3 linked regions of the Homo sapiens genome follow. The protein of the gene in region 2 interacts with the protein of the main gene of each other region in a pairwise test. Each region holds a gene or a part of one and is shown on either strand. Other genes may lie near its edges. The genes, in order: NFAM1, BCL11A and NR2F6.

What was found.
Region 1: the proteins of BCL11A (region 2) and NFAM1 interact in binary tests that used the Homo sapiens proteins (3 or more experiments, as listed by UniProt).
Region 3: the proteins of BCL11A (region 2) and NR2F6 interact in a two-hybrid assay, tested with the Homo sapiens proteins (one study listed by BioGRID).

The regions. Positions count from the first base shown.
Region 1 is NC_000022.11:42,430,938-42,434,682, forward strand, and holds the start of NFAM1 (NFAT activation molecule 1 isoform 1 precursor), read right to left. Parts: upstream 1,467-3,745; 5' UTR 1,421-1,466; coding exon 1,300-1,420; intron 1-1,299. UniProt on the Homo sapiens protein: May function in immune system as a receptor which activates via the calcineurin/NFAT-signaling pathway the downstream cytokine gene promoters. Activates the transcription of IL-13 and TNF-alpha promoters.
Region 2 is NC_000002.12:60,546,965-60,550,709, forward strand, and holds part of BCL11A (BCL11 transcription factor A), read right to left. Parts: intron 3,263-3,745; exon of another isoform or gene 2,841-3,262; intron 1-2,840. UniProt on the Homo sapiens protein: Transcription factor. Associated with the BAF SWI/SNF chromatin remodeling complex. Binds to the 5'-TGACCA-3' sequence motif in regulatory regions of target genes, including a distal promoter of the HBG1 hemoglobin subunit gamma-1 gene.
Region 3 is NC_000019.10:17,232,191-17,235,935, forward strand, and holds part of NR2F6 (nuclear receptor subfamily 2 group F member 6), read right to left. Parts: coding exon 3,309-3,745; intron 437-3,308; coding exon 162-436; 3' UTR 1-161. UniProt on the Homo sapiens protein: Transcription factor predominantly involved in transcriptional repression.

The sequences.
Region 1 (3,745 bases), on a different chromosome or scaffold from region 2:
CCAACTGTCTGGGGTGTGGGGCGAGGCGTGCACAGGATTAAAGGAGATGGTGTCCTAGGGCTCTGGGCTGCAGCCTGGGGAGGTACACACAGGTCAGCCTTTGCCTCCCCAGGGTAAGTTTCCGGTGAAGAACATTCTTTACAAGTAAGAGGATCCTCTGAGCCTACTGGCCGAGGGGCCCAGCTTGGGGCTGAGGCTGGCCTGGGGCTGAGGCTGGCCTCTACTTACCGGCTAGGTCTTGAGCAAACGAACTGGCTTCCCTGGGCCTCCTTTTCCCTGTCCTTAAAATGGTGCAGGTGAGGACAATAGGAGCCCCAAGGGGTGCTGTGAGGGTGGCCAGTACGTGCCCTGCTAAGGGCTCCATAAAGCCTAATTTGTGGTCATGAGAGGGGGTGCAGCAGGACAGGGTGGGGGCAGCTCTTGAAAGCCCCATAAACTAAGAGAATAGAAAGGAAGGCACCCTGTCTCCACAGTGGAGGCCACCCCTTTGGCCAGAGGGAGGGTTGGCTGCTGCCCGGCCAAGGAGGGGCAGAGAGAATCTGGCAGAATTCACTGAGCCCTCGTGCTGGCAGCCCTGGAATGGGACCCTCCTGGGCCGTCCCTGGCCTGATGAACTGGCCCTGAGGCTACCTACCCCACAGCTTGGCTCGGATCCCGGCCACCCAGCTTCCAAGAAAGCCTGGAACCAGGAAAGGAGCGCCGCTGGCGTGGAAAGACACACTTGCATCCTAAAACACTTGGCCTCTGGTTGTGTTTCAGGAACTGGGAGGTGAGACCCTTTCTGGTGACTGACAGTTTTGTGCCTCTGGGCGCAGAGCCCTGTGGCTGGCCCTGGTATCCCCCCCTCCCCCCTCTCCCCGCTCTCCCTGGCCAATGCCAGCAACAACCCAGAGGGTAGCCCCACCACTTGCCAGGTTCAACGCAGTGTCCCCCGCAGCAGCCACGTGAGGTTCCTCGGATGGGGAGCTGTCCCTCCCCCCTGCCCCGCCCCTGGCCCCAGCCACACAGCGCCCACCCTCCTTGTTTAAGGGCCAGGAGGCCAGACTGCTGGGGCAAAGCTGTCACAGCAGCGAGGGAGAGAGCGCTGTCCCCCTCCCCTTCAAAAGCCACCTTGGCAAGGCATTAGCTAAACATCTTCTCGGTCCCAGAAGGCTTCCCCTGTGAAGTCTGCAGCGTTCAAACGACAACCAGCAAATCCCCAGAGACAGGTCCCTGGGAATTAGCTGCGCCGGGCGGGATGAAAGCCGCTCTGATGTTCTGGAGCGAGAGAGTAGAGAGAAGGAGGAAGACAGACACTACCTGCCAGTCGCAGGGTCCCGGGCAGCAGCAGCACGCCAAGGAGGAGCCAGGGGGCTGCGGGGAGCCCAGGAGGGCGTGGGAGGCCTGGCAGGGCCCGCCACCTCACAGGCTGGTTCTCCATCTGGGGGCCTGCTTGTCTGCGGCGACTCTTTAGTTCACAGGAGGGGACGGCCGGCGCTGACAGCTTCCCCTTTGCTTTCCCCACGAAGCTCCTCCCTGGCAGCCCCTGACCTTCCGCTCAGAAGCAAAGCTGGAACAGCCCAGCAGGGTGGCCGCCAGATGAGGAACCTGGCACTGAGACTGGTCCAGGCCACACAACCAGAAGAAGAGCTGGAGACGGGACCCAAGCCTCCCCACTCCAACCCCTGGTGGGCTTCACCCTGTCTCGGCCCCTTTCCAGCAGGGGCCCCGTCCAGGAGACACTGGTAACTGTGCAGAGGGATCATGGGATTTCCATGAGTGACTTCGGGCCTTGGTTTAGCCTCTCACTTCTGAAACACTTTTAAAACGACCACAAGCATGTTCACACAAACTTCTCTAAAATATTCTGAGAATCCCTTAATAATGTGTTTACCAAAGGTAGGTTTTTTGGTGAGGGGTGGTAGGGAGGCTGGGGTGAAGGGCAGGAGCCTCATGTTCCCAGCCCTAGAGAGGGCCAAACACCCAGGGCAGGTGAAAGGCAGGCTGCCCATCATTCACCCAGCGAGAACCTCTGTGGGTCCCCTGCAGAGGCCCAGGAGACGCCTCCTCTCTGGTCCATCTCTAACGTCAGCTCCTCCCTGTGGCTGCCCTAAAGCTTAGCTCACTCGGCCTCCCAACTGTGAGACCCTCGAACTGCTTCCCCATTGGCTGCAGGTCACAGCCCCTGCTCTCACTTCTAGCAGCATCAGCCGGGGACAGGAATTGTTTGCTGCCGGGACCCCCTTCCCCAGCAGACTGGGAGCCCCTCACCCTTGGCACCCACACATCTGCCTGCGTGTCTGGAGTGGCAGAGGAAAGGGGCTGGGGTGTGGTGATGGCTGGTGGAGCTGGAGGCACCTGGTACATGGAAGACGCAGGCGGGAAGGTGGCTGAGTTTCAGCGCATGCTGAGCGCTTACCTCCCTTCTCTGCAGGTGTCCCTTCACTCACCAGATAAATGTGATGATCCCAGTTGTACAAAAGAGAAGACCTCGGCCCCAGGAGGCAAAACAACATGCCTAGGATCAGGGCAGGTCTGTGGGGCGGGCATTTGAACTGCCAGTGGTATGATGTCCGAGCCTTCTCCCACCCTGCTACTGCCTGCTCAGGTGTGTCCAGCTGCAGCCCCCGGTGACGGCATCATGAGATCCATTTCAGTTCTTTGCACACATGCTTTTCCCTGGGCTGCTCCAAACATGAACAGTGAAAGCCTAAAGACGTTTCCACCAATGCCACGAGCACTGGGAGGCTGGCAAGAGCAGGGGCCGCCCACCAGGGGAGGAAGACATATGAACAGGAGAAGTTTCCTACCGCGCAGGGGGCAGGCGGGGACCCCAGTGTTATTGACTGTTGATCCATCACAGTGATACATGCTCACATATGTCACAGTGAGATGCAGACCCGCTGCTTCACGCTATTCCTGGCTCCTGGGAGTAGCAGGTTGTCTAAGCACCTTGATGCCATGGTGATAGACCTCGTGTCAATGCCTCAGGGTACACGGGGAGCATTGGAAAAGCATCGGTCTGTGCCTCTACAAGTCTCATTACGACTTGGCACTGGGAGGCAGCTGAATGCCAAACTGCCTCGGAACAAGGGAGCCTGCTCTTCCAGCCCTGGTGCCGCCTCCGCTCCTGCCCCTGTGCCAGCTCACTGACCCTACCTCTCAGCCTGTCACGGTGCCCCCCACACCCCAACTCTGTACCTCGGACTCCCGGGAGTTCTGCCGCCTCTGAGTCTGGGTCTAGCCTGCTGCACACCTGGTTTCCACGCTTGCCTGCCTGAGCTGCCTGTCTTCCTCCCCTCTCCTTCTTGAGCCTGGCCCAGGGGGTGCAGGAATGGACGGATGGGTGAGCATAAGGCAGGGAGAAGCCTTCCTCCAGGCTTGATATGAAGGCAGGTGCCCAACACCACGCTGGTGCACAAGAGGCCTCAAGGGAAGGGGTAGCCTCTGGGAGGCAGGGTGGGAGGAGGCGTGCATACTCCCCAGGCAGGCCCTGGGCTGTGGAGCGCAGACATGACTGGACAAGAAGCAGCTGAGGGTCCCAGCTCATTGCCCAGTTTCTGAGACGCTCTGCAGCCACGCAGCCTCCTGGGGAGAGGCAGGGACGCACCTTGGCAAGGAGCCCAGCAGCCCTGGCTGCGCTGTCGGGGCCTCGTGTCTGGCCCTGATCCTCCTCGGGAGCCAGGGGGATAGAAATAAAACCGCAGCGCATCCAGGAGCCTCATTTCTACCAAAACTTTCTAGCACCTCTCATGTGCTTCCTCTC
Region 2 (3,745 bases):
CACTGCCAAAAACCTTTCTGCTCTCACTCTCAGCAGTGCCACAAAATCAAAGAAATACCAAATGCACGGGCAGTATTTCTCAGACACATTAGCTAAATGGGATACTTTTGAGTACTTAAGAAAATAAGCCAATTAGTCATTTTTTTTTTATTCTGAGAAATGGAATGCCTATAATATTCTAAACATGTTTGCACTTGGTGGCATCTATGATATAAAAATCAGAATGGTCAAGCAAACACCACATTTCAGAGCAAGGCTGAGAAGTCCTTTCTTTAGACTTGAAATACTTCGCCTAATGTTGTCAAAGTGGACTAATTTTCTGAATGAGCTCCAAAATGCTTCATTATGAGACTATTTCTGCACACATAATCACCAGCGGATGGTATAACAAGGTAGACATGTCTTTCTTTCCTGTTTGCTTTTTTTTTTAACTTTGTACTAAAATACTCCAGCATCTACTTTACCAGCTTCTATCATTTTTTAAGCTTCCAAAGGGGAAAAGAGAGTTGGTAAGTCTCTGCTTGTGAAATCTTATGCTTGCTCTATCAAAAAAAAAAAAAAAATCACAAAATACAAAACATCCAGGATGCTGCCAGTTAATAAAACTGAAGCAGAAAATGTACAAGTCTTAAACAGTTAATCAGTCTGACCTTCTTTAGCAAGCTGCCAATTTTACATTTAATGAACTTAAAGCCACAGAGAATCAAAAAATAGATTTTAATTTGAGTGTAGAATATTGGAACAGATTTTGATAAAGTGCAAAAATCCAGTGAACTCAGGTTAAATTTATTTCAACCCTACCCAGGCTGAATATTGAGGGGGAAGATCTGGAGTAACTCCCAGATGTGCTAGGTGAAATAATATTGAGAGAGCCCTGCCTAGCTGCACCTGTGCTCAAGTAGGACATCTCATAATTTCTAGCCTCTGGTACTCCTCCTAATTTAACATAAGGTCACCACAGGAATATGAAGGTTATATTCCTACTAATAAAGACAGTAAAGTAAGCACTTATGTTTCTTTGCCCAACATACTGGCCAAAAGATAAATACAGAATACATATGCATACTTTTCAAATAAAAGAAGACAAACAGAAGTGCCTCTGCATTGTGCCTTAATGTCATTCTTCTCTTACATTTGCTTCCATTTTGACCAAGTGAGGAATAGGGAACTCATTCTCAAAATATTCCTGTTGTCTGAATTAAGGATTTTAAGTACACATTGATAAATGTGGCTTTTTTGTTTAGCATTAGCTACAAGTTCTGAGGTTTACAGACTGAAGGAAGACTTAGGAAAATATTTTATCAAACTTACTAGTACATAGAACCTTTGCAAAAAAAAAAATTTTTTATTTCCACCGTTAAGATTCTTTTTTTTTTTTTTTTGTTCCCAAGGTCTGACACATTTCTAAAAGTGGGAATATTATTTAGGTGCAAAAGGAAATATTCTCCTAGGTATCAAATAGTTAAAGGTAATGTGGTTCAAAACAGACTTGGTTAAAGTCTTCTAAATGTAGTGACTGAACTGATTTACAATCAAAACCGGGAAATGAAGTGGTAATTCAGAGGTTGCTGATTACACCTCCACATTTCACCTAATTAATTTTATAGGAGGCAAAGTTCTTGAAAATAACAAGATGATCAAATGTACAGATATAAAACCTGTAACCTCAACATTTTCTATGCTCTTAACGTAAATTATTGCTAATTAACAAGAATTATATTCTAATGTATGAAATACGTTTAACATCGGTCTCCTTGCAAAACATTTGGCTAGTGGTGTTCAGAGAAATACCAAAACGTGTTTTTATCATTGCTGGTATATTATTAAAAATCAGACAAAGTGGGACACAAAGAAAATATGAAAATACAATTCTCATGGTGTAGTCTACTGATTTGCATTGACATCTTTTCTCAGTGGCAATCAACATTTCCTTTCTGGGCATCTGATAATTTCTCTGCATTTTAATGCAAATTCCCCTTTCCCTAAAAACCTTCCTAACCCTCAGCCATTTACCCCCTCCCTCAATTCAACTCCATCCTCCTTCGCCCCAACAATACCAACATTTCTAAGCTCCGGCCTAAACTCCGGCTACAAAGCAGGGAGTCCTCGATTGAAGTGGAAGGGAGTGGGCAAATAATCATAATAATTAGCCGCGAATTCTCTCTACGAGGGGAGGAAGAAATAGAAAATAAAATGCTTCTACGTTCAAACAGCAAGACAGCCTGGAACGTCTCAATGTCTCAGTGACAGACTGAGATCTCTTTCCTCTCTGTGTAGTTGCAAAAGAATAAATTTAAGGGAAAAAAATAATCCTTATAGGAAATGTTGGTAAGGAGCGAGCAAAACGAGAGCTGCCGGGGAGCGGAGGGGGAGGGGGAAAGGGAGATGTGTCTTCAAGTTTGCTTTCCAAGTCCTTCTCCTTGATTGTCTTAACAGGGTAAAGAAGCAAACGGAGGCTGAAATTCAGAGAGGAAAAGCAAAGAAACAAAAGCAAAGCCGGGGGCTACAGGCCCGGGGCAGGGGCCCCGGCAAGGGTGGACCGTGCAGAAAGTGAAGTTGGGCGCGGGGACTCTGAGGCACAAAGCGAGCAGCGTGCTGGCTGCAGGCTCCCGCCGCGCTTGCTGCGAACACGTGCAGCAGCGGCCGCGGGGCCTTGGGGCCCGGGGGCCCGGAGACGGAGGGCAGCCAGGGGCCCTGACTGCTGCCTCCATGCCCGTCCAGCTCGGCCAGCTCGGCCGCGGGGTGACGGTTCCCTGGGCCTGCCAGTTGGTGAAAAAGGAAGTGAGGTTTGGAAAACCCGGCTGGTTAACCTGGTGCAGTCTCAGTATCTCCGCACACACCTCAAGCGCGGGTCCTGAGATTCATTCTGTGTCCACAAGCTTACACTTTTTACTTTGGGGGATCTCTGCAAATGCATTTCCCCCGCAATTCTGGGCACTGGGTGTGCGCGGCGGCGGCTGCGGTTATTCATTATTAATGACGCTGCCTGCCCGCATCATTATGATGATAACTATTACTATTGTTGTGATTCCGAGCTCCGAGGCGAGAGGGGGGGTGTCGGGCTGCAGAGCCGCCCAGCAAGCCAGCCGAGGCCACCGAGGTCTGTGCTTTGCATGGGGGTGAGGGGGTGGAAGAAGTGAGGCTGGAGACCAAGTGCAAACTTGCCATATCCCCCTCTTCGGCCATGCCCCGAAGCCCTAGAGCGCGCACTCCCGGTTCCTCCCTACCAAAAATGCCGGCCCCGAAAGAAAGCGAAAACTGCACCGTGCTCCGAGCCCGGCGCGCGCTGGTCTCAGCTCGCGCACGGGGGTGTCGGCCGCGCGCCCGGTCGCTTCTCCGCGGCCCCGGCCAGAAGCATTTTTAAAGTCAAAATGAAGAACAAAGACATACGGGGTGATGGGGGAGAGAAAGGGAATTCTGCCTAACCGTTCTTTCCCCCCACCCCCACCCTCGCAAAGCTCGTTCCTCCCCGGACGAGAATCGCCGGGCAGGAGGTGGGGGAGGCTCTGGTACAGGTTCAAGTTCGCTGAGCTTTCTTGATCTTGTTCTGCCTCCTAGCGACCGAATGGCTCATTCAGCCCACATAGCAGAGGCGGGGGGCGGGGGGGTGGTACTGAGGACCGGGATGGCTCCTGCCCCCTCTGAGCACCCAGAAAATGAGGACAGAAAGAAGTGGCCCCCTCACCCCCTCCCAAACTGGCCCTTTAACCCCGGGACAGGAGGAGGGGGTACTAACCCTCCCAGC
Region 3 (3,745 bases), on a different chromosome or scaffold from region 2:
AAAAAACAGAAAAGACAAACATTTCACAGTCTTTAAAAAATAGAAGTCTGAGGAGAGAAGCCAGAGTCCTGGGCCCCGGGAGGCCCCTCGAGGCCTCAGCATTCCCTGTCCCTTGAGGTCTGTCTGCAGGCCTGGCCACAGCACACGTGGCCCCGTCATGGTCACTGGCCCGAGCCGTAGGGCCAGTTGAAGGTACTCCCCGACAGCAGCATGTCTCTGATCAGTGTCTCAATGGGCGTCTTCCCCACCAGGCGCATGAAGAACAGCTGGGAGATGAGGGAGGCAGGGACCGCGCGCAGGGCGGGGAGCCGCAGCAGCAGGCGCCCGAAGCGCTGGGGCTGGGACGGGTACTGCGCCCGCACATACTCGGTGAGGGCCACCTGCGCCTTCTCCTGCAGGCTCTCAACGTGGGCCGGGTCTGAGAGGCCACAGGCGTCTAGGGGGACAAAGGCAAGTCAGACAGGTGGGAGGCAGCTAGAGAACACAGAGCCCACAGGGGTGACTAGGGGACACCACTCGCCACTGTGGGTAAGAACAGGGGGCCGGGCATGATGGCTCACGGCCACAGTCCCAGCACTTTGGGAGGCCAAGGCAGAAGCATCATTTAAGGCCAGGATTTGAGACCAGCCAGGGCAACATAGTATGATCCCTTCTCTGCAAAAACAAATCAGCTGGGGCTGGGCACAGTAGCTCACGCCTGTAATCCCAGCACTTTGGGAGGCTGAGGCAGGTGGATCACTTGAGGTCAGGAGTTCAAGACCAGCCTGGCCAACATGATGATATTCCGTCTCTACTAAAAATAAGAATAATTAGCCAGGCATGGTAGTGCGTGCCTGCAGTTCCAGCTACTCGGAAGGCTAATGGGAGGATCGCTTGAGCCTGGGAGGCGGAGGTTGCAGTGAGCCGAGATCGTGCCACTGCACTCCAGCCTGGGCAACAGAGGGAGACCCTGTCTCAAAATAAATAAAAAATAAAAATTAGTCCAGTGTGATGGCACACGCTTGTAGTCCCAGCTCCTCAAGAGGCTGAGGTGGGAGGATCTCTTGAGCCTAGGAGTTTGAGGCTACAGTGATCCATGATCATAGCACAGCCTGGGCGACAGAGTAATAAGACCCTGTCTCAAACAAAACAAAACAAAACAAAACAAAACAAAACAAAAAACGACCCTGGGATGCAAATGGGACTATCTAAGACTGTGTCGATCCTCCAGAGATAGTGAGGTGTTCTCATCTAACCAGTGACATAGGGGTGCAGGCAGTGATGTTTCAAGGGTGGCTGGCACCCAACTCATGCCTTTGGCAGGGAGACAGGTTCTAATTTTTTTTTCTTTAAGATAGAGTCTCACACTGTCGCCCAGGCTGAAGTGTAGTGGCACGATCTCACTGCAACCTCTGCCTCCGGGTTCAAGTGATTCTCCTGCCGCAGCCTCACAAGTAGCTGGCATTACAGGCACACTCCACCACGCCTAGCTAATTTTTGTATTTTTAGTAGAGACGGGTTTTGCTGTGTTGGCCAGGCTGGTCTTGAACTCCTGACCTCAAGCAATCTCCCCACCTCGGCCTCCCAAAGTGCTGGGATTACAGGGCCACCAGCCAGGCCAAGGAGATGGGTTCTAAGGAAGCTCGCAGGGAAGGTGGGGCTGGGAAGGGAATTTGATGAGGAAGACAGAGCCCAGAAGGGCCTACGGTGTGAGAGAATGTGGCAGCCTCTAGAGAGAGACCCAAGATAGGAAGCCAAGAAGAAATCTGGGAAGGCCAGGCGCGGTGGCTCACGCCTGTAATCCCAGCACTTTGGGAGGCTGAGGCGGGCAGATCATGAGGTCAGGAGTTCGAGATCAGCCTGACCAACATGATGAAACCCCGTCTCTACTAAAAACACAAAAATTAGCCAGGCGTGGTGACGCGTGCCTGTAATCCCAGCTACTCAGGAGGCTGAGGCAGGAGAATAGCTTGAACCAGGGAGGCGGAGGTTGCAGTGAGCCGAGATCGTGCTACTGCACTCCAGCCTGGGCGACGGAGTAAGACTCCGTCTCAAAAAAAAAAAAAAAAAATCTTCTGGGAAAACAATAAATAAAGCCATATTTATTGATTTTTGAGACGCGGTCTCACTCTGTTGCGCAGGCTCAAGTGCAGTGGGAAAATCAGAGCTCACTGGAGCCTCGAACTCCTGGGCTCAAGTGGTTCTCCCAACTCTGCTTCCTAAAGTGCGGTGATTACAGGCCTGAGCCACCTTGCAGGCCCAAAACCATATTTATCAAATGAAAGCCACCTCCCAGAGTAGCCTGGATCTGGTTCCTAGCCCCAAAGATACCTCTGATGGGATCTAGAGACTTCCAGTAGGTTAAAGAACTCCCAGGAGACAGGCTGGAGAGATCTTTGTCTAAAGGCATGGTGGCTTATGCCTGTAATCCTAGCACTTTGGGTGGCTGAGGCAGGACTGGTTGCGCCCAGAAGCTCAAGACCAGCCTAGGCAACACGGTGAGACCACGTCTCTACAGAAAACGTTTAAAAAAAAATTAGCCGGGAATGGTGGTGCACGCCTGTGGTCCCAGCTACTCAAGAGGCTGAAGTGTGAGGGAGGATTGCTTGAGCCCTGGAGATCAAGGCTGCAGTGAACCGTGTTCGGACAACTGCACTCCAGCCTGGGTGACAGGGTGAGACCCAGTCTCAAAAAATGGAAATACAAATAAAAAAATAAAGTGGAAAAAAAAAATTTGGCTGTACCGCCAGTCGCTGGAATACGATGGGCTACCACTGCTAGATAGCTGATGGTTAAGAAAGTTCTGGGGTTGCCCCGCCCCTCAACGGGAGGGGCCTCCGAGCCACGCCCCTACCCAGATCCCTACAACCCTGGCTACCTGGAGGTTGCCCTGGGAGCCCAGTGGGGGCCTGAGGGGGCCAGAACCAGGGGGTCAGGACCTTCCCTCCCACGTCCCCCCAACCTTGTGCTATCAGTGCTCACTAAGCCTGAAGAGCCCTTTGGTGAGGGAGTAGGGGTCTCAGGGAGCCTGGGAACAGGAAGAGGGTTCTGGGGTCTGGGCCCTGGTCCTGGCCCAGCCTTGGGTCTGGGGTCCGGGGTTCAGAGTTCTCCGAGAGTCCTGGGATCACGGAGTGGGGGTGTCACAGTGTCACACTGCTTACATCACCCCTCTACAGCCACCCAAGAGCGTTCACTCACGGCGCGTGCAGGGCCCCAGGCCTAGGGAGCGAGCGGGGCGCTATGGGGGCCGGAGTCTGGGTCCAGGCCGCCCTCCTCCTAACCTCCCTTGGGTCCCCCCATCCCGCGGCCCTCTTCGGAGCGTGGCTCACCGGGCGTGAAGAGCGCGATGGCCTTGAGGCAGCCATACTCGGCCGAGTCGACCTGCAGGCGGCCCAGCTTGTCCACCTGCTCCTGGAAGGCGCGCACCTGGTCCATGAAAGCCACGGCGCGCTCGGCGGCCATAGGCGCGGCGTGGAGGCCGGCGGCGGCCAGTAGCGGCGCCGTGTGCAGGGGCAGCGCCGCCTGCGCCGCGTTCAGCACGAAGAGCTCGCTCCAGCTCAGGCGCAGCAGCGCCACCTGGTCGGCCACCGGCAGCTCGGGGAAGAAGGGCGCGTGGCGCGCCCACTCCACGGTGCTGAAGAGCAGCCGCGCCGCCAGCTCGCACACGTTGTCGATGCCCAGCACCGCGCCCGCCGCGCCGCCCCCTGCGCCGAAGCGTCCGGCCGCCGCAGGGTAGGGCTCAGCGCGCAGCAGCTGCGCGATCAGT